Linked DNA regions of Homo sapiens: region 2 is linked to region 1. Evidence: fine-mapped expression QTL. Tissue or cell type: whole blood. Region 1 holds a variant in brackets; the other region holds the start of a gene. All regions are shown on one strand. Distances are from middle to middle.

What was found. PIP is the estimated chance that this variant, and not a neighbour inherited with it, causes the effect.
Region 2: it holds the start of C22orf39, and the variant in region 1 is fine-mapped to the expression of C22orf39 in whole blood (INTERVAL, PIP above 0.99).

The regions. Positions count from the first base shown.
Region 1 is chr22:19,417,807-19,420,306 of GRCh38, reverse strand. The region is part of intron 1 of HIRA (histone cell cycle regulator); the gene reads left to right. Among named protein-coding and RNA genes, the nearest start is that of HIRA, 13 kb to the left of the region's middle. The variant GTT/T (reference allele first, on the strand shown) is at 1,380.
Region 2 is chr22:19,446,669-19,449,168 of GRCh38, reverse strand. C22orf39 (chromosome 22 open reading frame 39) reads left to right here and starts at 1,458. Exons shown (of 3, transcript NM_173793.5): 1 at 1,458-1,504; 2 at 1,624-1,791. The coding sequence starts at 1,481. It overlaps UFD1-AS1 (UFD1 antisense RNA 1), which reads right to left and starts at 1,735. Exons shown (of 2, transcript NR_186687.1): 1 at 844-1,735. RefSeq lists a silencer at 1,513-1,912 and an enhancer at 1,360-2,262.

The DNA of each region.
Region 1 (2,500 bases):
TTGTTTTTAATTTGTAGAGATGGGGTTCACCATGTTGCCTAAAGTGGTCTCGAATTCCTCAGAGCAAGTGATCTGCCTGCCTTGGCCTCCCAAAGTGCTGGGATTACAGGAGTGAGCCACTGCGCCCAATCTCAAAACTTTGTTGATTATATGTTGGCAGATGCTTCAGGAGAAGTGATTAAGGTCTCCTAAATGATATACCTGTGACACTTTTCCACTTTAGTTTGTGGCGCGTGCACACACACACACACACACACACACACACAATGGTTGTATGGTGCAACAGCTTCCTTCCTGTGCTATGTTTTCAATCTCTTAGGCATCTGACACCTATGAGATGTCATTGTGTCATGCTTACTAAAGAAGATGGGGATAAGTTTTTGTGGTCGAAAGTGGTAGAGATAACAGCAGCAGATGGCTGTGAACCAGCCAAGGGTGTGCTTCCCACCTGCAGGCAGTTGGCGAAATCTGAGTCCCCACAGCAGTAGATCAGGAGCCTGCCTTCCAAAGATTGTTACACCAGTGATACTGAAGGTGTTTGAATGTAGTGCTTCTGTCATGAGCTTTCTCCAGCCATTCAACAGCAACAAGTTTTTATTGTTGTGCCTGTTATGTGCCAAGCCACAGCTCTGGGTCCTGAGGATGAATTAGTGAATAAAACAGACAAAAGAGCTGATCTACTTACTGGAGTTTACATTCTAGTGGGCAGAGTAGACAGACATACAATAAAGGAAATTAATATGTAAGAAATTCCCGAGGAAATAAATAGATCAGGACTAAGGGGATTTGTTGTGCCACATTGGGGAAATAATCCTTTAAATTAAAGTTGTTAGAGTAGGCCTCAATGTGAGGGTGACATTGAGCAAAGACCTGAAGGAGGCAAGGAAGAGTCAGTACAAGGCCCAAGATAGGAGCGCACCTGGTACAGTCCAAGAAAAGAGGAAGACCAGCGATGGTGGGGGTTAGTAGGAGATGAGGTCAGAAAAGTCGTGGGGGCGGGGTGGCCATTGTGCAAGGATTGTTGGCCTCTCCTCTCAAGGTCTGGCCTTAACTGTGTTGGGGCAGACAGTGGGTAGAGCAGGTTTCTTGGAAAGATCAGACCGTTATAGAGAAGATCAGGGTGAGGTGTCTAGAAGGCAGTCAGCCATAGGAGTTACTTGCATATAGGTCACATTAGTGTGTTTGGCTGATGAGTTTCTCCAGAGGGATTGCTTGTTATAGAGTGTGCATATTGTCACCTGCACATGAAAAGAATCATTTTTATTATGACCTAACCTCTGGTGTTTGGATATTTACCTCTACTGCCTTATATATTAGTACACACACATATATATCGTTTTTTAAAAACAGGCCTTGTGTGTGTGTGTGTGTGTGTGTGT[GTT/T]TATTTCTTATCGAGATGATTATAGATTCACACCGAATTGTATGAAATACTGAGAAGGTACTTCTGGACTTAGTCCAGTTTCTCCCAATGTTAACATTTTGCAAAACTATAGTTGACATTGACATATGCTACCTATTTTTTAAAATTTATTTCCCCAGTTTTGTTTGTACTTATTTGTGCGTGTGTATGTTTAGTTCTATACAATTTTGTCACCTGTGCAGGTTCATGTATCTACCACTGCAGTCGAGATGCTGAACAGTTCCAACAATTTTTATATATTTTTTATTTTTATTTTTTTGAGACAGAGTCTCGCTCTGTTGCCCAGGCTGGAACAGGCGCGATCTCGGCTCACTGCAAGCTCCGCCTCCCAGGTTCATGCCATTCTCCTGCCTCAGCCTCCCAAGTAGCTGGGACTACAGGCGCCTGCCACCACCATGCCTGGCAATTTTTTTTTTTTGTATTTTTAATAGAGACGGGGTTTCACCGTGTTAGTCAGGATGGTCTCAATCTCCTGACCTCATGATCCACCCGCCTCAGCCTCCCAAAGTGTTGGGATTACAGGTGTGAGCCACCGCACCCCGCCAACAATTTTTATAATTACACCCACCTCCCTCCTACACTCCTCCATTTTATTTATTTTTATTTTTGGTTTTGTTTGGTTTTTATTAGCATTTTAAAAATTGTGGTCAGATATTCACAATATAAAATTTACTATCTTAATCATTTTTAAGTATGTAATTCAGTACTGTCACAATTCACATTATTGTGCAGCCAGTCTCCGGAACATTTTCATCTTGCAAACCTTTATACCAATTAAGCAACAACTCCCTATTTTCCCCTCAACTCAGACGTAGGCAACCACCATTCTACTTTGTGTTTCTATGAATTTGACTATTCATAGATAGCTCATATAAGTGGAATCCTATGACATTTGTCTTTTTTCACTTACCATAATGTCTTTGAGGTTCATCCACATTGTAGTGTGCATCAGAACTACTTTCCTTTTTAAGGCTAAATAATATTCCATTGTATGGATATATACCACATTTTGTTCATCCATTCATCGGTCAAGGGACACTTGGGTTGCTTCCACCTCTTGGCTGTAGTGAATAGTACTGC
Region 2 (2,500 bases), 29 kb before region 1:
TCTGGGTTTTTGTCTTCACTAAGCAACACCTGCTGTGTATGCAGTGAAACGCCTGGTCCTTTGCTGGAGGCACACTCCCCTGCCTGGACCAGGATGGATTCCATTGCAGAGCCTTTTAATGACACAGTGGGGCCAGTTGGAGCACTGATCCTGGTCATTACTCCTGCACCCTGGCCTGCAGCCTTCCTCTCAGTGTCTTATTTGGGCTTGGTCCTTGAGCCGGCTGCCTCAACAGCAGGACCCCTGGTAAAACTGCAGCTTTCTGATCCACCTCCAGGGAGTCTGTCCCAGTGTCATTCCTGGGACTGGCCCAGCAGTCCCAGGATTTGTATCAGTGGATACTGAGGATTTGTTATCAGTGAAGTGGGAGAACCGCAGCATAGGTACTGCAGGGCGTTTCTGCAAGCCCACCAGCCTCCTCTTTACTTGCCTTTGTTGCCTCTTGTGCATTGCTCCTTTTTATAAACGTCCCAGCCAGGCACTGGCGCTCCGCCTATAATCCTAGCACTTTGGGAGGCCAAAGTGAGAGGGTCGCTTGAGGCCAAACTAGCCTGGGTAACTTAGCAAGACCCCATCTTTACAAAAAAAAAAAAAAAAAATTAAAAATTAGCCTGGTGAGGCTGTGCATGCTTTTGGTCCCAGCTGTTCGGAGTCCAGGAGTTTGAGGTTGCAGTAAGCCATGAACACGCCACGCCACTGCACTAAGCCTGGGTGACACAGCAAGACCCTGTCTCGAAAAATGAATAAGGTAAATGTTACATGTCTCCCGCACCCTTAGAATAGAACTACAGACATCCAAGCCACTCCTACCCCGCTCACCCCTGCTACACACCGCCTCCATACCTTTGACCGGCCTATGGCTGTACTCGGATTGCATTCTCAGCCTCCACTTCAAGCCTGCGTTCCCTGGGGAGGTCATTCAACCCTAGATCCACCATATGTCATGCCCAACCAATCTCAGTTACTTTGCGAGTTCACCTCCATCCTGAGTGGACGCTCAAGCAAGACTGCTGGAGCTGCAGATCTGGGAGGTTCGCTGCACCACCTTGATGCTCAGTATGTACTTTTGAAAATATACCGGATTGTTGAGATTTGAGAAAATCTCATAAAGCTGCTGAAAAGAACTGGCCAGAGCCGTGTGATTTGAGAGGCGGCTGACGTAAGGTAGCTGCGCGGCCCAGGATGCCCGCCTGGCCCGGGGTGAATGGCGCTGTCGTCGCGGTGGTCGCGTAGGCTTCGCGCCAGGTCTCGCCCCGGATTTACCCTGCGACCCCGGCCCTCCGCGCGCGCCGCAGCCGCCCTCGGTTGCTATTGGTTGCTCGTCCTGTTTGTCGGCGCTTCTCGAAGAAGGGGGCGAAGACGTGATTGAATGTGTCGGTGCTCATTAGTTCTTCTGTCAGTCGATCACGAGGTGCCGTTTTCTTCATTTTTCATTGGCTGGCGGACTGAGGGGCGGGCTTGGCGCGCCGGTCGCCCAGACATGGCGGACGGCAGCGGCTGGCAGGTGAGTGTGCTGGGTCGGAGCCGGGAACCACCGGGGTCTTCCGGAGGGAGGGAACGGGACTGGCTCGGGGCGTAGGGCGCGGCCGCCGGGCCCCGCTCAGGCGCCGCCTCTCGCCGCAGCCGCCGCGCCCCTGCGAGGCCTACCGCGCCGAGTGGAAGCTCTGCCGCAGCGCCAGGCACTTCCTACACCACTACTACGTCCACGGCGAGCGGCCGGCCTGCGAACAGTGGCAGCGCGACCTGGCCAGCTGCCGCGACTGGGAGGAGCGCCGGAACGCCGAGGCCCAGGTGCGCCGGGAGGGAGCGGGGCGGCGCTTCGGAGCGCCTTGCGGGGCCCAGCTTTCCCCACCCCTCCACGCCCCATGCCCCGCGACCTAGCCGGGGACTGACGGGGTCCCTATCCTCCTCACGCTTCCTTTCTTTTGAGAGATTGTGTAAATTAGCATATCAACAGGACTTTCAGAGGGCGTGAAAGACAAAGGAGGAGACCAGCGAGGAGGGGGTGTAGAGTGGTTTAGAGAGGGAAGAGGGCAGCCGTCCGGTGTTAGGGTCATCAGCTGGCCTACGCAGGAGGTGATGTTGCTGAGTCCTGAGTGACCAGGAGCCAGCCTTCATCCAGCCCCGGTAGACACCGCTGAGAAACAGATAAGGCCTGGGTTCCTGAAGCAGAGGGTAGGTGGATGGTTGGAGAGCGGTATACCAGGGACCTGGCGGGCCTTTTGATACGGAGTTTAGAGTTTAGTCTAAAGTGTGCTGGGAGGCATAATTCGATTTATATCTTTAAAAGATCAGTCTGTTAGCAAAGTGTGGTGGCGTGCACCTGTGGTCCCAGCTACTTGGGAGGGTGAGGCGGGAGGATCGCCTAAGCCCAGGAGTTCAAAGCTGCAGTGAGCTATGGTCACACCACTGCACACCAGCCTGGATAACAGAGGGAGACCTGTCTCAGGGGGGAAAAAAAAGAGAGAGGGTAAAAGAAGTTCAATCTGTTTGCTAGGGT